Linked DNA regions of Homo sapiens: regions 1 and 3 are each linked to region 2. The links come from fine-mapping of genetic effects on gene expression. A gene starts in region 2. Each other region holds a variant in brackets. All regions are shown on one strand. Distances are from middle to middle. Region 1 overlaps SLC25A26 (solute carrier family 25 member 26). Region 2 holds the start of SLC25A26 (solute carrier family 25 member 26). Region 3 overlaps SLC25A26 (solute carrier family 25 member 26).

What was found. PIP is the estimated chance that this variant, and not a neighbour inherited with it, causes the effect.
Region 1: its variant is fine-mapped to the expression of SLC25A26 in whole blood (TOPMed, PIP above 0.99).
Region 3: its variant is fine-mapped to the expression of SLC25A26 in blood mononuclear cells (TOPMed, PIP 0.99).

The regions. Positions count from the first base shown.
Region 1 is chr3:66,375,742-66,383,848 of GRCh38, reverse strand. It overlaps SLC25A26 (solute carrier family 25 member 26), which reads right to left. Exons shown (of 10, transcript NM_001379210.1): 10 at 4,926-6,159. The coding sequence ends at 6,042. It overlaps LRIG1 (leucine rich repeats and immunoglobulin like domains 1), which reads left to right. Exons shown (of 19, transcript NM_015541.3): 15 at 448-867; 16 at 1,451-1,576; 17 at 2,218-2,370; 18 at 2,988-3,272; 19 at 3,360-5,052. The coding sequence ends at 3,586. Among named protein-coding and RNA genes, the nearest start is that of LRIG1, 120 kb to the left of the region's middle. RefSeq lists enhancers at 153-652, 653-1,154. The variant GT/T (reference allele first, on the strand shown) is at 3,938.
Region 2 is chr3:66,216,562-66,224,668 of GRCh38, reverse strand. It overlaps SLC25A26 (solute carrier family 25 member 26), which reads right to left and starts at 3,668. Exons shown (of 10, transcript NM_001379210.1): 1 at 3,542-3,668. The coding sequence starts at 3,574. RefSeq lists enhancers at 3,045-3,544, 3,666-3,725, 3,896-4,055.
Region 3 is chr3:66,296,457-66,304,563 of GRCh38, reverse strand. The region is part of intron 5 of SLC25A26 (solute carrier family 25 member 26); the gene reads right to left. Among named protein-coding and RNA genes, the nearest start is that of SLC25A26, 80 kb to the right of the region's middle. The variant C/G (reference allele first, on the strand shown) is at 3,458.

The sequences.
Region 1 (8,107 bases), 160 kb before region 2:
AGTTAATTTTTCTTAAACAAGTGTTTCTATCTCTTTAAAAGAAATGATAGCTGGTGAATTAAGAGTCTTCATAGGGTTTAGCTACAGAACATTTTAAGAATTGGACAGGATGGATGTGGGCTTGGTCAAGAGCTACAGAACATTTTAAGAATTGGACAGGATGGATGTGGGCTTGGTCAAGAATAAGGACACAGGCCTGACACAGGACAGTTAGGGAATAGCAGGGGCTTTTGTCAGCAGAGGTTCACTGTCCCTGTGGAAGCCACTCCCAGCATGGAGATGACTCAGTCAATGAGTTGAAGGGTCTTCTCCAAAGCTTGCCACTCTGAGACAGAATCTCAGATGCATCTCATTGATATGTTGGATTGTCCGTTGTCCAGAAGACCGGGCAGAGCCAGAGCAACGGAGGCCCTGAGAATGACTAAGATCTCTGTTGCTCTCTTGTAGAGACCCCATCCTTGGTGGTCCCCTTGGAAGACCGTGTGGTATCTGTGGGAGAAACAGTGGCCCTCCAATGCAAAGCCACGGGGAACCCTCCGCCCCGCATCACCTGGTTCAAGGGGGACCGCCCGCTGAGCCTCACTGAGCGGCACCACTTGACCCCTGACAACCAGCTCCTGGTGGTTCAGAACGTGGTGGCAGAGGATGCGGGCCGATATACCTGTGAGATGTCCAACACCCTGGGCACGGAGCGAGCTCACAGCCAGCTGAGCGTCCTGCCCGCAGCAGGCTGCAGGAAGGATGGGACCACGGTAGGCATCTTCACCATTGCTGTCGTGAGCAGCATCGTCCTGACGTCACTGGTCTGGGTGTGCATCATCTACCAGACCAGGAAGAAGAGTGAAGAGTACAGTGTCACCAACACAGGTCAGGCCCTGCCAGCGGAGCTGACTTTCAAGGAGGGAGGAATGGCAGTGATGCTGGGGAACTGGGCCGGGTTCCAGTGGCTTTTGAAAGAATTGCACTGTGTTCAGAACTCCTGAGGGTTTAGTCCCACTAATTCCATTTTAACTTTGAGGAACTTAACCTTAAACAGGAATACTCTCAAATTTAACCTTAAACAGGAATACTCACAAATACAAGTAACTGACGCACCATGCAGTTTTCCCTCTCCTTGCTAACTCAGAGGCCGCCTATGCACAGGCCCTGCTGCCACGTAGTAGGTTGTTCCTGAAACAGTGCGGTACTTCTGTGAGCCCCGGCTTTCCATCACTGGTCTCCACTTCTTGTGGCGTCTGGCATCTGCTGGCTGCGCTCTTCACGCTGGGTGTAGAGTAAAGCTGAGCAGGCTCTGGGAGGGCCTGTTGCGTACATGGACTCCATGTCATCTCTCTGCACAGCGCTGATGGTCGTCACTGGGAGGATCCCCTTTCTGAGCTTGACAGTGAACGTGTGTCTGCATTTCTTGTCACTGAGACCCTGGTGTTCTATTTGTTCTGTCTCCTTGCAGATGAAACCGTCGTGCCACCAGATGTTCCAAGCTACCTCTCTTCTCAGGGGACCCTTTCTGACCGACAAGAAACCGTGGTCAGGACCGAGGGTGGCCCTCAGGCCAATGGGCACATTGAGAGCAATGGTAAGGCCTCAGTAACTGTGAAGCAGAGCTCTGCTGTGACTGTGTCTCTGGGTGCTGGAGGTGGCCTCCAGGTCTTTACAGGGCAGGTACCTGGCATTAGATGGGGCAAACTTGGTGAAGTAGAAGGCGGTATGACTAAGGGCTGCTATTTTGGACCCAGTCTTCATGAGTTCTGCAAGGTTTTAAAGTCCTGTCCCCTCAGGAAGCCACTGGATTGGGCTTAGCATCTCCCTGGCAGGATAAAGTAGGCTTGCCTGGAGTAGCAGCTGGAAAGGGCATTACGGTGCATGAACCCAGCCAACCCATTCCTTACATGGGGAACGTGCCCAGGTCTGCTCTGTGATCCAGTCTTACACTGGAAAGCTGTCACCAGGATGAGGTACTTCCAACGGTGGGGGCCTCTGAGCACTTGCCTGAGACTGTAGAGGCTCACCCTGAGACAGCTGCTCATTTCACAAGGCCAGCCTGCCTGCTGGGAAGTAGTAGCAGAAAACACGCTGCTTGCCAGACCAGCAGCCCCACCGCTCTGAAGAACTTTTTAAAAAAAATGACTGTTCTAGCGGCCTTGCTCATTCCTTTCATAAGGCTTACTGTGAAATACCAAGCCCAGAGTTTCTAATCGTGTTGGAATCCACTTGCAGGTGTGTGTCCAAGAGATGCAAGCCACTTTCCAGAGCCCGACACTCACAGCGTTGCCTGCAGGCAGCCAAAGCTCTGTGCTGGGTCTGCGTATCACAAAGAGCCGTGGAAAGCGATGGAGAAAGCTGAAGGGACACCTGGGCCACATAAGATGGGTATGAGATGCTTCCCATTGGAAGTAGTTTCTTTCTGAAATGGAAATTTGGGCTGACCTAGTCACTACATCAAAGGGGGAGACACATTCCTAGTCCACAGCTGTCTCCAAATTTGGTATTCAGTATATACAGGGGAAGCTCAGGCCTGGCTCTCTTAATTCCAGGATAGTTTCTCCTAAATAAATCTACGCCATGGTAAGCCTGAGCATGAATTTTCTAGATGTATAAGCAACTTAAATAAGGGGCAAGGCACAAACGAAGTATAGAGTTTCAGTCAGCACTTTTTCACCAGGGCTATTTTGAGGCTTATTTCTAATTGTTGAAAAGACCCAACACTGCATGGTACCTAAGGCTAATGGCTTTTCCCCCGTGAAGCAGTAAGACTACATTGTCTATGAAATTCACTGTAAACACGAAAGACCCCACAGTTCATGAGTGACTTGGTGTTTGCCCAGTCCTTTCTCTGGGGACATAGTTGGGGAAAAGAGGAAGCATGCATACAGTGTTTGCAGTCAGGGTTCTCACCTTGCACAGTGGAGCTGAGCAGCCTGTCCTCTGTGTGGGGACGAAGACTCCCACAGCAGTGACTCTAACCCATCTTTGGCGCTGTCCTTCAGAACACGGTGGCCGGGTCGTATGCAGTGACTGCAACACCGAAGTGGACTGTTACTCCAGGGGACAAGCCTTCCACCCCCAGCCTGTGTCCAGAGACAGCGCACAGCCAAGTGCGCCAAATGGCCCGGAGCCGGGTGGGAGTGACCAAGAGCATTCTCCACATCACCAGTGCAGCAGGACTGCCGCTGGGTCCTGCCCCGAGTGCCAAGGGTCGCTCTACCCCAGTAACCACGATAGAATGCTGACGGCTGTGAAGAAAAAGCCAATGGCATCTCTAGATGGGAAAGGTAACTTTTGACTGTCTTCTAACAGGTGGGTTGGGAGCTGCTTAAACGGTCAAGTGGGGGTCTGACAGGTTCGTTCTTTCCTTGTAGGGGATTCTTCCTGGACTTTAGCAAGGTTGTATCACCCGGACTCCACAGAGCTACAGCCTGCATCTTCATTAACTTCAGGCAGTCCAGAGCGCGCGGAAGCCCAGTACTTGCTTGTTTCCAATGGCCACCTCCCCAAAGCATGTGACGCCAGTCCCGAGTCCACGCCACTGACAGGACAGCTCCCCGGGAAACAGAGGGTGCCACTGCTGTTGGCACCAAAAAGCTAGGTTTTGTCTACCTCAGTTCTTGTCATACCAATCTCTACGGGAAAGAGAGGTAGGAGAGGCTGCGAGGAAGCTTGGGTTCAAGCGTCACTCATCTGTACATAGTTGTAACTCCCATGTGGAGTATCAGTCGCTCACAGGACTTGGATCTGAAGCACAGTAAACGCAAGAGGGGATTTGTGTACAAAAGGCAAAAAAAGTATTTGATATCATTGTACATAAGAGTTTTCAGAGATTTCATATATATCTTTTACAGAGGCTATTTTAATCTTTAGTGCATGGTTAACAGAAAAAAATTATACAATTTTGACAATATTATTTTTCGTATCAGGTTGCTGTTTAATTTTGGAGGGG[GT/T]GGGGAAATAGTTCTGGTGCCTTAACGCATGGCTGGAATTTATAGAGGCTACAACCACATTTGTTCACAGGAGTTTTTGGTGCGGGGTGGGAAGGATGGAAGGCCTTGGATTTATATTGCACTTCATAGACCCCTAGGCTGCTGTGCGGTGGGACTCCACATGCGCCGGAAGGAGCTTCAGGTGAGCACTGCTCATGTGTGGATGCCCCTGCAACAGGCTTCCCTGTCTGTAGAGCCAGGGGTGCAAGTGCCATCCACACTTGCAGTGAATGGCTTTTCCTTTTAGGTTTAAGTCCTGTCTGTCTGTAAGGCGTAGAATCTGTCCGTCTGTAAGGCGTAGAATGAGGGTTGTTAATCCATCACAAGCAAAAGGTCAGAACAGTTAAACACTGCCTTTCCTCCTCCTCTTATTTTATGATAAAAGCAAATGTGGCCTTCTCAGTATCATTCGATTGCTATTTGAGACTTTTAAATTAAGGTAAAGGCTGCTGGTGTTGGTACCTGTGGATTTTTCTATACTGATGTTTTCGTTTTGCCAATATAATGAGTATTACATTGGCCTTGGGGGACAGAAAGGAGGAAGTTCTGACTTTTCAGGGCTACCTTATTTCTACTAAGGACCCAGAGCAGGCCTGTCCATGCCATTCCTTCGCACAGATGAAACTGAGCTGGGACTGGAAAGGACAGCCCTTGACCTGGGTTCTGGGTATAATTTGCACTTTTGAGACTGGTAGCTAACCATCTTATGAGTGCCAATGTGTCATTTAGTAAAACTTAAATAGAAACAAGGTCCTTCAAATGTTCCTTTGGCCAAAAGCTGAAGGGAGTTACTGAGAAAATAGTTAACAATTACTGTCAGGTGTCATCACTGTTCAAAAGGTAAGCACATTTAGAATTTTGTTCTTGACAGTTAACTGACTAATCTTACTTCCACAAAATATGTGAATTTGCTGCTTCTGAGAGGCAATGTGAAAGAGGGAGTATTACTTTTATGTACAAAGTTATTTATTTATAGAAATTTTGGTACAGTGTACATTGAAAACCATGTAAAATATTGAAGTGTCTAACAAATGGCATTGAAGTGTCTTTAATAAAGGTTCATTTATAAATGTCAGTATAGTTGGTGGTCCTTCTTTTACAAACGCAGTCATTCTGCCTTTAATTATCTTCCCCCAAAAAAGAAAAAAAAAATAGGCGAAGCAAAATCACATACTGTTTGTTTGCTCCAGGGCAGACAACACTGCTAGATTCCTGACATTTTGTTTTGAATTTTTCTACACCTGGAGCTTGTTAGTCAAGGTCTAAAATCCCTAAGTGTGGTGACCTTTCCATTTCATCCTGCCTTTTCAAAGCTGGCCCAGGCCCTCCTTTCAGTCTGACATGAGAATGGCGAGAATGGCTCACCCACCGTGCCCTCCTGCACGAAGCCAGCTGGGCCCACCTAGTCACTTGAGTTGCAGCTGCTTTCTCTCACACACCACAGGGGGCGCTGGACACATCTCTGTAAAATAATACAATTGTGCGTTTTTATGGGTGAAATCTGAGGGTAATTAAAACCAGCAGCCTAGTTACCCAGAAAGAGTGCTTGCTATGCACCTGTAGTTCAATCTTTCTTTCTTTTTCAACAAAGCCTACCCTTACACAACAGGAATTAACTAGGGGGAGAAACACCCACATACACAACTCTTCCCCAAGTCTCCTTTTCCCAAACAAACAAACAAGCTATTCTTTTAGAATTATAACCATCTTGCCTTCTGCTGAATCCACCATCAGGTGGCAGGAAATGAAAGATCAGATACAGATCAAATGAAAGCTCTAAAAGGCCTGGCCTCAGCATTACCAAACTTATTTATTAAGAGGTTCTGAGGAAATTGTTCAGAGTACCGCCACAGACCCCGTTTTCTTCTCTTAGCTCTCTGGCATACAGGCCAATGACTTCATACCAGCCAGCCTATACCACGGATGGCACAATCTCCATGCCGGTATCTTAGCACAACTGGTCTTCAGCACTGGGGCCTATAGTTCAGACAGCTGCTCAGCGGAAGAGGGTTTGCACTGCAGGCCCCTCTCTTGACAGAAGTGGAGGTGAGGCTTGTCTCTGCTTCAAGGACTCTTTCTGCCAACTTCCAACAGCAAGCTGTGCGTTCGGTCATAAGCCCCCAGAAAGATGAAACCTCCCAGACTGATGGCTGCCATTCGAGGGAAGACACCTGCAAATAATCTAGGGGAAAAAACAGGATTTTTAATGTTGTGCGTATTTTAAAAAAAGGTTAAATTCCAATACCCACAGCTTGCTCAGCTCAATACACCATGCTCATTAGTGGCTAACTACCAAACAGCTTGTGAACGCTCCCAAATAAGGCAAGTAATAGCTGTGTCCCAACAGTAGTTCTAAAACTTTCATGCCATTTTTCCCTTTGAAACATGAAATTGATTTTTTTTAAAAAGGTGTTAAAGAGCTGAATCCTAGGTAAGGCTGGAAGGCACTTCCAGCCCACACCTCTAAAGTGATCTCCAGGGGTTGCTCAGTGAAGAGATTTTTGGGCAATGCTGCCGCTCCACCCACTGACTCAGTTGCATTTTGTCCTTCGAGACCCCAAAACATGACGTCACGACAACGAGTTGAACCTCCATGGATTCCCTGTGTTCCTTTTCTGTCTAAAGGCATGAAAGGCAAATGGGCTGTGGCTGTGAAGGGGGCAGCATGCCTCCACCTGCACAGTCCCCTTGGTATCACAGAAGGTGCTGCTAACCAGCCAAGGTGCAATGTAGAATAATCAGAGCAATGCAAAGTAAAACTACAATGCCACGAGGATACAAATTGGGGATTCATTCTTTAAAACTGCCCCCCCTCCCCATACCTACTCAGATATTTGTTCAAAAATTTTCATTGTGGCATTGCTGATGGTGATATAAGTTATGGCACAGTATAAACATACAGTGGATGATTATGTAGCTGATAAAGATGAGGAAATCTACAGATGCCAACATAAAAAAATTACAAAACAGGTTTAAAAAACTAAGTCCAAGGACTATGATTCCATATCTAAAAGGCAAGCCAGGGATGTGTCTTAAGCCCTAAACTGAATGCCTGCTGCCTGTGGATTATAGGACACATTCCTGGCCCACGCTTCCATAACCTTTGAACCTTTTCACCAAGAGTACAGGCATGACTCAGAGATATTTCAAGTTTGGTCCCAGGCCAAGTTTGGCCACCATAATAGTGAATATTGCAATAAAGCAAGCCATTCAAATTTCTTCGTTTCCCAGGGCACAGAAAAGTTATGTTTCTACTACAGTCTATTAAGTATGCAGTAGCAATTATGTCTAAAAATTGTACATACCTTAATTTTAAAATGCTTTATTGCTAAAAAATGCTCATGAGCATCTGAGCCTGCAGTAAATTGTAATCTTCTGGCTGATAGAGGGTCTTGCTTTGAATGATGGCTGCTAACTGACCAGGGTAGTGGCTGCTGAAGGTTGGAGTGGCTGTGGAAATTTCTAAAAATAGTAATTGTTGCATTGATGGACTCTTCTTTTCATGAAAGATTTCTCTGTAGCACACAATACATTTTGCCCACAGTAGGACCTCTTTCAAAATTGGAGTCAACCGTCTCAACTCTGCCACTGTTTTCTCAACTAAATTGATGAAATATTCTAAATCGTTTATTGTAATTTCAACAGTGTTCACCGTATCTTCACCAGGAGTAGATTCATCTCAATAGATCACTTTCTTTGCTCACCCATAAGAACCAACTCCTCATCCGTTCAAGTTTGATCATGAGATTGTGGCAATTCTTTACATCTTCAGGCTCCACTTCTGACTACGGTGGTCTTGCCATTTCCAGTACATCTAGTATGTGTTTCCCTCCACTAGTCAGCCATGAGGATTGGAATCAACTTCTTCCAAAGTCCCAGCATGGTCAATATTTTGACCTCCTATGAAGCCACTAATGTTCTTACTGGTATCTAGAATGGTGACTCCTTTCTAGAAGGCTTCCAATTTACTTTGCCCACATCTAGCAAAGGAATCACTGTTGATGCAGCTGTAGCCTTATGAAATTTAATAAAACCTGAAAGTTAAAGTAACTCCTTGATCCACAGGCTAAGGAATGGATGTTGATAGTAGGCATGAGAACAACATTCATCTCCAGCAGAACTCCAGGGTG
Region 2 (8,107 bases):
GGGGACTGTTGAGAAGGCATGATTGGTTTTGAAATGTGAGGATAGGAGATTTGGGAGAGGCCAGGGGTGGAATGATATGGTTTGGCTCTGTGTCCCCACCCAAATCTCATCTTGAATTGTAACTCTCATAATTCCAATGTGTTGTGGGAGGGACCTGGTAGAAGGTAACTGAATCATGGGGGCAGGTCTTTCCCTTGCTCTTCTGGTAATAGTGAGTAAGTCTCACAGGATCTGATGGTTTTATAAAGGGGAGTTCCCCTGCAGCACATGCTCTCTTGTCTGCCACTATGTAAGACATGACTTGCTCTTCCTTTGCCTTCCACACAACTGTGAGGCCTCCCCAGCCAAATGGAACTGTAAGTCAATTAAGACTCTTTCCTTTATAAATTACCCAGTCTCAGGTATCTTTGTTAGCAGCATGAGAACAGACTAACACGATGTAATCCTACCACCAAAAATACTTAGTGCTATTTTGGAGTATTTCAATCTGGCTTTTTTTCCCCATGAATGGAATAGGTTTTAACATAGCTTTAATTAGGTACAAGCAAATATACATACATGCAATGTTTTTCTCTTAATTTTATCTCATAAGCATTTTCCATGTAATTATAGTACATTCTCTTCACAAGCACTATTTTTTATGGCTGCAGACTAGTCCAAGAAATGGGTTTCCCATTGTTTGTCTAATTCTTCCCCTCTGTCCCATGTTTTAGCAGCTTCTTACTGTCTTCACTGAGTTAAATGTTATTTATATAAATATCTTTAGGTTGCTAATACATAGTTCCAGTTGCTTTCCTAAAAGTATGCACTGATCAATGTACTCTTTGAGGATTTTGTTTCTGGATACCCCACTCTGTGCTCCAAATGATAACTAACATCCCAGAGGCTCTCCACTTATTCAATCCTCTTCATGAAGCTTTAGGAAGGGAGCATTTCAATGTCTGCTACTTGCCAGGCTCTGCTCTGTGTGTTTAATGTTACCTCATTTAATTCTTCAAATCCAAGTTTCAAGACTTCAGCAATCATCTAGGCTTTTCATTCAAAGTAGTACTGAGTGCTTACCTAGTGCCAGGTACTGGTAAAAGAGTAGTAAGCAAAACCAAACTCCCTCAGGAGTGTTCACTGTGTCTCAAACGCACTCCAAGACATTAAAAAGTAGCCACTCCATTTCCGTACTACTCTGATAATAAAACATTTCAATGGCTTCCATTACACTACAAATGAAATCCAAATTATTTTCCCTAGCCCATAAAGCCCCACCTCAGCTGGCTTTGCCTACCCCTCCCATACCAACCCCTGCCATGCTATCCTTACCCATTAGGCCTCACCACTTGAAAACTCTAAGCTCTTTCCACTTGAGCCATTCCCCATGACTGAACCTCCCACTCTGATCATCAAAAATTCAAGCCCCTTCCTATCTTTTAGGTCTTAGCTGAAATGTTACCACTTCGTGGCTTTCCTTGGTCACTCCATCTAAGAGGTTCACCAATATTTGCCTACTCTGTCGCATCTTCAGTTCATTTCTTTCATAGCACTTATTCATTGCAACTGTTTTATCTGCTGGCCTTTCTTCCCTACTTGAAATGGGGTTATCTGCCACTGTATCTACAAAGCCTACCACAATACCCAGTGGGCAGAATAGATGGAAGAAAAATTGTGTGCTGAATGCATAAATAAAATGTTTTTCCTTTACCTGGAATGAAATCTAGTTTCTTGAAACTTCCACCTATTGATTCTAATTTTACCCTCTATAAATACATTGGGAAAAAAGTATACTTTACTGCATGTGTATCATACTTTAATTAAGTATATACTAAATCCATTCTTTTGTTAACTGCAGCACTCACCTGTGTTTTAGCAATTGCAACCTTTGCTGACTTCGGAGAGTATCAAGAAGCAGATAAGGGCACGACTCCCAGGTGACATCACCTGGGTTGGAATATGAGCTCCAATACTTACACAGACGAAATGGATCTCACTTGTGTGATTTTGAACTAGTTATCTAATCTCTTGGTATCCCACTTCCCTCATTTGGAAAATTAGGATAAGAGTTCAATTATTGTGAGAATTAAATGGGATAATGTATGTAAAGAGCTTACCCCAGTTCCTGGCACAGGAATGTTAGCTGACAAACTACTGCTGCTGTGTCACCAGCTAGACAGGAAAGCTCCTTAAAAGCGGTAACATTGGCCAGGCGCCGTGGCTCACGCCTGTAGTCCCAGCACTTTGGGAGGCCGAGGCGGGCGGGATCACGAGGTCAGGAGATCGAGACCATCCTGGCTAACACGGTGAAACCCCGTCTCCACTAAAAACCCAAAAAATTAGCTGGGCGTAGTGGCGGGCACCTGCAGTCCCAGCTACTCGGGAGGCTGAGGCAGGAGAATGGCGTGAACCCGAGAGGTGGAGCCTGCAGTGAGCCGAGATGGCGCCACCACACTCCAGCCTGGGCGAAGAGTGAGACTCCTTCTCAAAAAAAAAAAAAAAAATCAGTAACATTATTTCTTTATATTTCTAAGACCTACCTTATACAAGTTTCAACAAATCTAGATTTAAAGCTATCATCCTACAAGTCTGGCTAAGACATCCCTACTTCCATATATTCCCCTAACACCCTGAACCTAGCCCACCTGTTATTTATCCCAACAGTCATTTTACTATTTTGTCTCTAACACCTGACCCTTAGGAGCAGGTCTATCTTGTTCACCATGTTATCCTCAACACCTGCAACACCAAAATTCGATAATTAAGTGACTAAATCACTGTGGGCCTCCATTTTCCCTATGAAAATCATTTTAAAAATTATTTGTCTGTCTCTGCCCATTCCACACAATGAAAACGTAGGCAGCCAAACTCTGTTTTGTTAACTGCTGTATCTAGTATCCTCTACCAGACGCTCCAAAATATTTGGTAAAGGACTTTTTTTTCTGTTAATTCATGTTGATTCTCGTAGTTTTCTGCTACGGAATTAAATACTAAGCCTGTTTATTGACTCCGCAGCGTTCCCGATGAGCTATGTGTGCTCACCAATATTTCTCCAAAGCCTAGGCTTGGAGCAGAAATAGCAGATTATGTATTGAATGAACAGAAGGACATGTCATTTTCTAAGACTGAAAAGAGATGCAGCAAAATGAGAAACGTAGTATTGAATAGAAGGGCTGGGAGCGATGTGAGTAAGGTTTTTGTTGTTGTGTTACATACATTTCTTTAATTCCCAAGATCTCTAGAGTAGTTACACTATTTAATGAAAGAGTAGTTAACAGTGTATAATAGAAGCTCTTTTTTAAGTAAATGAGGGTGCAAAAGACAATGACTCACCTTCCTTCCCCCACCTGGCTCTTATGACCTGGCAGTACAGACATAGCCTTAACACCTGGCCCGCCGGTGGCCTGGGAGCCTCGTGCTCCCTCTCAGACCTGGCTGCCAGTAACCCGAGGACAGTCCAGCCCGCAAAACCGGAAGAAAACCAGTGCAGAGAACGCCCGCGGGCTCCAATGCCGGACGCCGGCACTCTGAGCAACCCACCCCACCGCCCCGCACTCACCACCAGCGCTGCCACGAACCCCGGCCGGTCCATGGTCGCTCAGACCTCGTCAAGGCTACAATCCAAGCCGGAGCAGAAGCGGATCACGTCCTCGCGCGCTGGGCGCCGCCATGTTTGAGGCGGGTCTGTCTTGAACTTCCGGGACCACGTGACGTAGAACCACAACAACTGCACGTGCAACGCGAGACACCTGGGCCTAGGGGAGGGCCAGAGAGGAGGGGCGGGGCCTCGGGGAGTGTGGTGGAGCTAAGTCTCGGCAAATCCCTTACCTCGGTTTCCTGCAGCAGCGTTGTGTGCAGCTAGACGGAGGAACTTTCGCGAGCAAAAGATCCGTGGCCGAGATCCAGGAGAGAGCAGCGGTAGAATGAGGCCGGCGTGATTCTGAACTGTAAACCCAGAAGAGGCGTGGCTGTGGCGGAGGGAGGAGTCGTGAGGGGTAGTACTAACCTCGGGAGGCGCGATTCGGGATCCTAATCGGATATTTCATTTTGGTTTATCTCTTAGTTTTGTCAAAAAATTTTATCTGAGTTTATATTAAATTAACTCATTATCAGAAGATTATTAAATAAAGATATAGAAAAATACATCAGAAGTTTCCTGACCGGAGTTAAAAATTAGCATCCTCCATTTCTCTTTACAGAGTTACTGCATTTAAAATTATTTGTTTGTTCAGTTATTTACCTGCTCATGTTGTTCGCTGTTGTACTCATGTGTACACCTCAAAGCACACGTTATTAAGTACTTAATAACATTTCTTGGAGTGGACCTGTCTTTATTAAACAAACAAATACCTTGTAAACTTCTGTATATATTAAGGGCCAACTACATCTCAGACGTGGTGCTAAGTGATTGACAGACATTTTTTCATTTAATCCTTTCACCAACCCTATGATGTCAGCAACACTAGTGTCCTCATTTTACAGAGGCTCCTGATGCTCCAACAAGTAACCGACTCAATGTGGCTACAGAGAACACAGCAGAGCAAGCACTGAAAATATACTTAATGCCCTCATCATCTTTCCTCAAAACCGTTATAATAACCTGAGCAGGCTCCTTGCCTGGCCTTTCTTCAATCCCTATTCTATAACACTGCTAGAATTATTCTTATAATTATTCTTATTCTCTTCTAGGTAAAATGATCTAGAAATGATACGCAGAATAGCTTTAGGTGTTAGATGGAATTCAAATTCTATCACCTGCTGGGTTTGGGGATAAGTTTTCCAAGATTAAGTTTTCTCCCCTGTAAAGTGGCGATAATGATAGTCACTTTGTCATGCGGTACTATTATATTAATAGATTAAATGAGATAATGCACTCAAGTTCTTAGCCTAGTTCCTGGCTCATAGAAAGTACTCTCTAAAGGTGATGGTAATGTTATTTCCCTGCTTACAACTCCCCTCTGCTGCCAATGGAGACAGTCCAGCTCCCTAGCATGGTATACACCTCTCAGCTGGTGTCTCCTGTCACTCTTCCCACTAGCCGGACTACACACAGACAGACTATACACTTCCAAGCCTCCTAATTTTGCCCATGTTGTTCTCTCTACCCAGAATACCTTTCCCTAAGCTGCCTGTAGGCCCTCTCAAAACATGCTAGTTCACTTTGTCAATGCCAGCAGAAGAATCTCTGTTGCTGCTATTAATGTCTTTCAAAGTCTCATGTGCTTTGGTCAGGCCTACCCAGGATAATCTCCATTTTTATTAACTCAAAGTCAACTGATTAGAGACCTTAATTATATCTGAAAAATTCCTTTTGCCATACGTGACAACATAATCATGGTGGTAATGTTCTGTCATACTCACAGGTCCTGCTCACAATCAGTGGGGTGATTATGCAAAACACATTAGGGGCCAGGAATCTTGAGGGCCACCTTAGAATCCTGCCTACTTCACATTCCTATAAACCCTCACCGGCAGCCTCCTCAAAGGCCATCAAGTTTCTATTAATAAGCTTTCACTGACATTTCCCTCACAGTCTTCCCACCTTTCACCTACTGCCTGGTGCCAATGGCACTCCCACAGTTTAGGAATTACAGTAGCGCCCACCTCCAAGTACCAAAATCTGTATTATTTGTCTATTTCTGCGTAACAAATTACCCCCAAAATTTAACAGACTAAAGCAACGATAAACTTCTATTACCTCACACAGTTTTCATACGTCAAGAATCAAGGAGTCATTTAGCTGGGTGTTTAAGACTCAGAAATTTTCATGACACTACAGTCAAGATGGTGGCCAGGGCCATATCATAAAACTTGATCATGACCGCAGGATCCAATTCCAAGATGGCTCACTCCCATAACTGGCAGATTAGTGCTAGCTATTGGCAGGTAGCCTTAATCCCTCATGGCATACATCTCTCCATAGTACTGCTTGAGTGTCTTCATGATATAGTAGCTGGTTGTTCCTAGAGTAAGTGGTCTGAAAGAGAACAAGACAGAAACTACAAAGTCTCTCATGACCTGTTCTCATAAATTACTCAGTTGTCATTCCAGCAATAGTCTATTGTTTACACAGGTAATCGACATTTATTATGGGGCTGGACTACCCAAAAGCCTAAATACCGGAAGATGAGGATCACTGGGTGCCATCTTGGAAACTGGTTACCACATCAGGGAAATGCCGGTGAACACCACAATGAGATATGAATACACTAGAACTCACTAGAGTGGCTAAAATTAAAAAGCCAAGTGTTGACAAGGATGAGAAGCAACTGGAAATCTCATACATTGCTGTTTCGAATTTTATATGGTACAACCATTATAAAATCCAATGCCACACTTAGGTATTTACCCGAGAGAACTAAACATTTATACAAATACTTTTACATTATATTTCAAAGCAGCTTTATCCATAATAGTCAAAAACTGAAAACAACCTGAATGTCTATCAACTGGTGGTATAAACATATTATGATACATCTTTATAATGGAACATCACTCAACAATAAACGGACATGAATTACTGATATATGAAACAACATGGATTAATCTGAAAGCATTATGCTATGTGAAAAAAAAAAGACCACATGTATTGTGATTCCACTTACGTGAAATTCTGGAAAAGACAAAATTATAGTGACAGAAAGTATATAAATGCTTTCCAGGCGGTGGAGGTAGAGGCAAAGTATTGACTATGAAGTGGGCACAAAACAATAGTTTGCAATGATGAAGATATTCTCTTGTTATTATTGTGGTAGTAGTCGCATGGGTGTGTACATTTACTAAAACGCATTGACTTGCACAATTAGAATGGTTGTACTTAGTATATATAAACTATAAGGCTGGGCGCCGTGGCTCATACCTGTAATCTCAGCACTTTGGGAGGCCAAGGTGGACGGATCACCTGAGGTCAGAAGTTTGAGACCAGCCTGGCCAACACAGTGAAGCCCTGTCTCTACTAAAAATAGAAAAAATTAGCTGAGTGTGGTGATGCGCGCCTGGAGTCCCAACTACTCAGAAGGCTGAGGCAGGAGAATCGCTTGAACCCGAGCGGTGGAGGTTGCGGTGAGCTGAGATTGTGCCACAGCACTCCAGCCTGGGTGACAAGAGCAAGACTCCATCTCAAAAAAAAAAAAAGTATATGTAAATTATAGCTCAATAAAGTTGATTAAAATATTACTATCTCGCAGGATGATGAGGAATAAATAATATATGCACAGAAAGTTTTAGTCCAGTGCTTGTCATATAGAAATATTCGGTTTATTCCGTATTTTCCTATTTAAGTTAGAGATTCTGAATATTATGAATGAGAGACTGATAAGTTATCAAGGTGCATAAGTACTTTGTGATACATACTACTATAGCCTCCTAAGTGAAAATAAATCTTATTTCTAGCTACTAATGTTCCTGGAAGTTTTTGATGTAATTCCTTCCCTAAGAGAAAATTTAACCTAGACTTATACCTTTAATTTTGATTTAATACATCCTTTGAAGTAAAATTAAGAAAAAAATTCCTTTCCTCTTCAATGCAATGGTTGTCTTTAACTTTGCAAGAAAAAATTGTGTTGATGTCATTTTCTGGTAACTTGGAGGGAAATGTAATTTATCAGGTATCTTTCAGAATCAAGAAGAAATACATAGTCTCTCCTTTTATGCAAGGTAAAGGCTTTACCAGGTATTTCATGATACCACTGGAATCCTTTTAGGAAATACAGATATTACAAACATGACCTAGGGCTTCCTTTTCATGAAATGCTAGCAGAAAGACTCATTACTACTTGTGCATGCTTTTTAAATGGAGTATTTCAATGCATCATCATTATCACCACATTGCAGGCAGCATATGTTCTCAAATCTTTCATTTTAAAAGATACAGGCAATGTGGTAAGCACTGATTTGCATTACACATGTGATATTATAATAATCCTGTCTTTCTCACTTAAATCTATCACTGTAAGCCAAGTTTTCTTTTAAACAAGCTCTAAAATCTTAATAGTATTTATAAAAATTAGCAAGAAACCAAAGACATAGCTCAAAAAATAATTTAAGCCTAGCACAAAAAAAAAAACAAAAACAAAAAACAAGGACATAATCTTCAACCAGGACTAGGCTTAAGTTCCAAGCCCCG
Region 3 (8,107 bases), 80 kb before region 2:
CAATCAGGGGTTGTTACAGAGCTTACCAGTATAACAGCATGTATACAAGCCACACACAACAACTCACAGAAGCTCACAAGCCTCCCCACACCTTTGACTCTAATCCTCCTCCTGCAAAAATAGAAGAAAAAATATGACAACAGACATGTGAACACAAAACTGAAACTGAACAGAAAAGGGAAGATATTAGCTTAGATATGAGACATAAGAAAAAGTATGCTCCAGAATCTTTTTAAATCAAGAGGCATTGTGGGAGGCCCCCAAGATTCCCACTCCCTGATGTACCCGCCCTGTATAATCCTCCCCCATCCAGTGTGGATGGGACCGTGAACAGGACAAAGACAAGTCCTGTGACGAAGTTACATTTAATCAGAAATATGAATGGATTCTGCAGATTTAATTAAGTTCCCCCATCAGTTGGTTCTGAGTTTATCAAGAGGGAAATTATCGTGGATGGGCTTGACTTCAAAGGTGAGTTCTTAGAAAAACCAGCCCCTTCCTAACAAGATCTGAAGTGTGAGAGATTCTCCTGCTGGCTCTGAAGAAATAAAATTTCATGTTGTAAAAGGGCCTATGGAGGGGGCCACATGGCAAGGACCTCAGAGCAGCCTCTGGAAGTAAAGTGTGGTCACCATCCAATCGCTAACAAGAAACAGGATCCTCAGTCATACTGCCACAAGGAAATGCCATCTGCCAACCGCCCTGTGCATTTGGAAGAGGACCCTAGCCTCAGATGAGATCACAGTCCCTGCAACACCTTGACTGTCACTGTGTGAAACAGTGAATGGAGAACTCAGCCACGCGGTCCTCAGACTGCTGCTGTAGAGACCCATGAGATCATCAATATATGTCACCTTAAACCACTAAAGTTGTGGTAATTCATTACACAGCAACAGAAAGCTAACAATCATCTACTGCACCTCTAGACATTCCCCTAAGTGATCCTGATGTTACATGACACTTGAAGTTACTCATTTCAATGGAGTGAAAAATGTGGGACATTCTAGTTAAGTGATCTTGACTGGCAGTTAAAGTTTCAGAAGTCCTACAATATTTTCTGACTTACAGCCTAATCTTACCTGGAAGGCATCTTGCTGATTATCTGATCCAGCCACCTCACTTTTAGCCAAGACTAAGAGAGGGAGCTAGCCTCCCCAGGTTCACAGGGCTAACGAGCAGCAGAGGACGAGCCACAGCCCAGTTCCTCCAACACAGTTAGCTGTTCCCAGAAGTCTTTCCTTAAAGGTGGCTGCGCCTTAAAGATACTTGCAGTTGTGCTTGACTAGAGAGGGGGAGAGAAGTATATCTCCTCTCTGATACTGTAGTAAAATGGCCATAAAATAAATACTGAATGCTTTAGAAAAGTGGAGTACAAAGCCAATATTTCAAAGGATTCAAAGACTAAAAGCAGTATTAAAGATGTCAACAGTGACTAGACCATGATAACTACTATATTATAATGTCTTCTGCATCTTTCAACCTCCCAGGGGACATTTAAATTGTCACTACTCACGGGAGGTGCTCCTGGTATCTAGTGGGTAGAGGCCAGGGATGCTGCTACACAGCCTGGAATGCAAAGGGGGGTCCCCATGGACACAATCCACAGCCCCTTAAACTCTGCTCTAAGGCATCAGTTATCTTTCTTTATCCCTGCTGACTCCCTAGCACTGAGACACTGAACACATGGCGTGCACCACCTGTGCTCCCTTACACACTCAGAAGGCAAAGCTCTCCCATATCTCAATTTTCTTTGGCTTGGGCTTTAATCACTGTTCTTTGGTTTGAACTTAAATATGGGCTAACCTTTTCACCAAGTTGTATCTAGCTCTAATACACAAGCACACCTGCCCAGCTCAATGTTGCTTCTGACAGACAAAGCCAAAACACTATTATGCATACTTGATTTTAACTAATGTATGTTTTACACATGAATCAAAATCTGGTGACCTATCAGCAAAGGCCTAGTGGAGTATGAGTGTGCAGAACACATGGTGGAGAACCGCTGCTTACTCTAAACTGCTGGCAGCAAATAAGTATTACATGACCCAAAAAAATGATATCGATGACTAGAATGAGAAAAGTGTCAAAACAACAGGAAGTGGCAGGGACTCTGATGACATGGAGAGCAGTTTCTGTCAAAACAAGCAGCCGCTACTCTGTTCTAGACAATTACTGCCATGCAGAAATGTAGGCCCACTATGACCAGATACCCAGATTGTCCAAGAAAACTTGGATAACTGGAGTTGTATATGAAACCACTCAATTTTAACATGTTAGCTTGTAGTTTGCAAAAACCTTGAGTCCAACATTTTGGGCCACGTCTTTGAAATTTATGGTCTAGAGATTGTAAGAGCAAATGAAGAGGTGCCAAGTGGGCAAATTCAGAGGGAGGAAGGTTCAGGATATACTTCTGCACAACAGATGGAGTATTAGAGACACTGGGGATAAAGCTAAGTGATAGGCCTTGGATGAGGCCAACAAGTTTCAGAGGAGCTGCTAGTGATATTATCATCATTATCATCACAACAATAATCATAAATTATAACATTTATATAGGACTGTATTTCAGGCACTGTCCTAAGCACTTCATATGCAGGAACACATGTAATTTTCCCAACAACCTTATGAGGTTGGTATTATTGTTACTCTCATCTTACAGAGGAACAAAATAAGTCAGTTTAAATAACTTGCCTAAGGCCACATGGCTAAGTACTGGAGCTGGGATTTGAATCCAGATAGGCTACCTTCAGACTCCATGTTTCTAATTACCCCCGTCACAATTCTAATGCTTGTATCTGTAGGCTTTTAATTCTGTATCTCTCTGTAACTACATATAAAATGTGTTTCATCCACCTAAGTTCTGAATGGTAACATGTAGATAGGAAAAGACTAAAACAATGCTTAAGGTACTCCGTCTAAACACGTATAGAAATGGAAGCATTTTTCCCAAATGAAAATGTTAGCCCCTGCTCTCTATAAATTATGTTGGCCTAGTAGGATTCAGTCCCTCTTGTTAAAGTTTTACTTTCTAATGACATTCTTGGCTTCTGCTTACATAAAAATACTAACAAACAGATGCAGAAGTCACACTCTCCGGCATGGAAGTCAAAAGGCATAGACGAATTGGTTGTGCCCTCCAACCAGAGTGGGAACTGTGGCAAACAATTCTAACGCCCATCAAAGATGCAAGGCATGAACTTGTCCTACACACTGTGGCAGCATTATTACTAAATTCCTTAAAAAGTCTGTATAAAAATCTGTAACAACTTGGCAAGCAAAATTACACTTCAAAGCAGCTAGTATGTAAATTAACTTCACATTTCACTTCATTTTAAAACAAGAGAAATTGCTATAATAAATTCAGGGAAACTGGCAATTTTGAGTTGAATACTAAAAAGAAAAGTAAATTTTCACCTTTACATGAGATCTACTATTTTTTATTCTTCATGAACCCTAT[C/G]TTCCATTTCAGAATCCAATTATTTGAGGACACAATGAGTTCTATCATCATTTTATTCTGGCAGGTCAAACACTGGTCCAATATTATAAAAATGCATAGACTTTATTGAGACATAAAAAGCAACAAAGTATTTTCAATGCCGTAATTCCCAAATCTGCTTAGAAATCCAAACAAGTAATTTTTAAGTAGAATTTTAAATTGTGTTGGAAAAAACAAAAAACTCTGCATATACAGAAGCATAAATACAGATTAACAAGTGAATGCAACAAGATACTAAAATATAATACACGTGTTAGCAATCATTTTGAAGAAAGCACTAAAAATATCAGTACTAGTCCACCTCCCTTTAGTATATGCTACAGTCTAAAATATTTATATTTCCTTCTTTCTAGAAAATTATACTGCTCAAACTTTTTTTCATGAAGCAAAAAGGAAAAAGTCTCTCTCAAAATGCTATGCAAATATGCAGAAACCATGACATTATCCCTAGGAGGATGTATATAAATCCTTATTCTGTTATGGATCTTAAAAACAAAAAACGAGCATCAGCGACACCACCACCAAAGGACTCTTTAAGAAAGTACTTTTAAGATTTTAATTGTTCAAAATTGTTTAAGACAAATAGGAAAAGGTAATTTGAAATATATGCAAAGAACAAGAAATTTTACTTGTGGCTAATTCAATTATTTCCTTTGGAAAAGAATAAAGTTCAAATCATATTGCCAATGTCACTATAACTAAAATCTGACCATTACAAAAGGTCTCCCAAACTGCAGTCAATGGCCTGCTCACTTCAAGTAATATTGGTAATGGCTAAATTCCAGTATAACACCAAAAAAAAAAAAAAAAACAAAACAAAAAAACCCTAGCCTAGAAGTCCACTGGAGTTCACTGTAACGGGATTTAAGCTATAATTAAATTTGATTAGCTTGGTTCAAACCTCAAGTTCAAAAGACTTATCAGCATGAATGGATGAAAAACCCTTTTACACGGGCATTTTGAAAATATGAAAAGGGCTGACACAGCAAGCTTCAAAGACTTTAAAAGCAATTGACCCTTCCCAGAGCAAAGGAGAAACGCTAACAGCTGAAACTCAGATGCTGCGTGCAAAGAAAATAAAGTTCCAGATGGCTCAAAAGCCTGGTAGTTTATTAAATATTAAATACTATTATTTTTAACTGGATTTTTGCCCAGAGATAGCCAAATATGTCACCCATAAAATGTGAAAAAGCAGTATGATACCATCCCCTGAAAAACTGAAGCAAATAAATATTTTCTTTTTCAAAAACTACCCGCATGTGGAAGTTTCTCAAGGAGTTATACAAACAACCATGACAGTCAAACAATCAAGACGTTTAATAAAAAACAAAAACATCTATAACCTAAAAATCCAAATCAGTTTATTTCGAGACATTTAACTGTTACTCTATAAACACACACCTCATGCACACATACCCCCTTGGATCACATTATATTTTCATGCATGAAGAAAGGAGAAAAGTGAAAGAAGCAATAATAAATATGGACTACGGAACTGTGTTAGTGACTGGGGGTTAACATAGTTTTTACAAGTAGTTAAATATTAGTATGAAAGGATTATATATACAAAAGTTTGTTTGCCAAGCACATCGGCTCACACTTATAATCCCAGCATTTTCGGAGGCTGAGGTGAGCAGATCACTTGAGGCCAGGACTTCAAGACCAGCCTGGCCAACACAGCAAAACCCAGTCTCTACTAACACAAAAATTAGCCAGGCATGGTGGCACACATCTGTAGTCCCAGCTACTCGGGAGGCTGAGACATGAGAATCGCTTGGAACCCAGGAGGCGGAGGTTGCAGTGAGTCGAGACTGTGCCACTGCACTCCAGCCTGGGTGACAGAGGGAAACTTTGCCTCAAAAAAAAAGTTTGTTGTATGTATTCTTTTAAATACATACATGGAAATGGGTGCATATACACGCACATCAAATGAACTGTATACATACATATATAAACACACACACAGTAACAAATGTATACATAGGTACGTATTCATGTGTACACACACATACACACACACAAACCAAGGGTCCCTTTTCAACAAAATAAAGTTAGTTAACTAAGTTTACACACTGAGTTTTTAGATGGCACCTTCAAGTGAGTTTTTATGTTAAAATTTTTCCCTTGTTAGCATACTGTTTCTATGTAACTTGGGATCTGGGGGAGGGAAAAGACTGTTTTTCATGAAATAGAAACAACCTATGCCAAATGAAGCAGGTGTGAGATATCTCAAAGATGAAAGCAATTCTCCAAATAGCAACGTCATCCTGTAATGCTTTCTTGACATGTACAATTTTGCTATTCCTCTGACATTTATTACAAAGTACTGTGTTTGTGATCTTTCCTAACACAGATCAGTAGTGTGACTGGTGCTCATTTCTAGCAGCTTTTAGCACTGAGGAAAAAGTCAATTCAACACTGATGTCACTTAAAATGGGTAAGAAATCCAGCTACAGCAGAGGCTGCTGTGCCCCTTAAATGCTCTTTTCTTAAGACACTTTCTTCACAAGCAAATTAATTCTTAATGTAATTCTTTTATTCTGAAAACTGTTTATTACAAATCATCAGTTTTGAAATAATTCAAAGTGATCTCCCACCAAAAAAAGAAAACCCCACAAAGAAATAAATCATATTTACTTTTCTGTCCATTAAAAATATGCTGAAAGTGACACAGATGTACCTCTCAGAAATTTCTCATTATATTAAAACTTATCCACAATTTATGACAAGGAGTTTTACTAGAGAAAATATTAATTTCACCAGCTTAGTAATAATATCCAACATTTCATTTTCCTCCTGATATACCTATCAAATGGTTTTGGTATTTAAGCTCTTCTTTTTTTCAAAACAGAAGAAAATCTGTTAACTGAACTTTGTATCACCTAGTCCAGTGGTTCTCACACTTCAGAATGCATCAGAATCATGCAGAGGGTGTATAACACAAATTCTGGGCCTCACCCCAAGTTTCTGATTCAGAAGATCTCAAGTGGGGACTTAGATTCTGCATTTCTAGCAAGTTCCTAGGGAATGCAGCTGCTATTCGTGGAGGGACTGTACTTTGGGAACCAATGATCTACTCAGTATTTTCCTTCTTTTCATAATTTGCAAATTTGATAACGAGGAAATGATATGCTATATCCTTTAAAGACAGACATCTTTTGAGAACTTAGAATTAAAGAGAAATTGACAAAAAGGAAATCTAATCTAAGGCACAGCACAGCCCTCAAAGATGATCTAGTCTAGGATTCAGAAAACTTTTTCTGTAAAGAGTCAGATAATAAATAGCTTAGGCTTTATGGTCCATACAGTCTCTGTTACAACTACTCAACTCTGCCACTGTTGTGTGAAAGCAGACAGACAATACATAAATGAAAGAAAGTGGCTGCATGCCAATAAAGCTTTATTACAAAAACAGGCTGTGATCTGGATTAGGCCCACAGGTCATAGTTTACCAACTATTTTTTAAAAAAGGAAATCAATACCCAGAGAGATTAAACAACTTCAAAAGGCACAAGATAGCGAGTGGCAAAACTGCAACTAGACCTTCAGTGTCCTGATGTCTGATGTACTAAGGAAGCTACTGTTATAGTAATATTTTGATAAAGAACAGCCACAAATGGAATGCATTACAAAACCTCATGTAGCTTAATGATCAAAAAGAAAAAATGACTTTACTAAGCAAAAGAGCATCTCAGTTCTAGAATTAATGCCAGACATTCTTTTTTTTTTTTTTTTTTTTGAGATGGAGTTTCACTGTTGTTGACCAGGCTGGAGGGCAATGGCACGATCTTGGCTCACTGCAACCTCCACCTCCCGGATTCAAGCAATTCTCCTGCCTCAGCCTCCCGAATAGCTGGGATTACAGGCACCCACAACCATGCCCAGCTATTTTTTTTGTATTTTTAATAGAGATAGGGGTTTCATCATGTTGGCCTGGCTGGTTTTGAACTTCTGACCTCAGGTGATCCACCCGCCTCAGCCTCCCAAAGTGCTGGGATTACAGGCGTGAGCCACCGCACCTCGCTCAATGCCAAACATTCTTATTCTTATTATTACTTATAAATGGGAGGCTTCCACCATTGGACAACAATCTGGACTCTTGTCACATGGCTTCCTGCAGCCTACACTAGGTTGGAGCAGGGCCTACGCCAGTCAAGCCTTCTGTTCAGGGAGTGTGGAAAACAGAATCGAGGACTTCTCAGTTCTTACCCTCTTGGTCCTGCACCTTTCTCATCCCATCTGCAATCCATTTTATGCCATTCGTTAAAAAAATTCTTCCCAGTACTAAAATTATGGTTAAGAGCCAAAAGAGGTAGTAAACTATGAAACTTAAGTTAAAAACAATGCTTCTGTTCAAAGTTTTATTTTCATTCTAGTGATTAAATAATTATTAAGTTAAATATAATATTTAGCTAATAAAAGTAAAGCAGACATTTATCTTCACTACTTAGATACCTAAAAGTATACTATGCATACACACACAATACATTCACATATGAACACATACTCCCTATGCTTTCATAGTTGCCAAAGCTTTTACTCTTAAAACTGATTATTTAAATAAGCAATATATTTTAGCAATTAATAAAGTAAATTTTATGTATGGCCTTA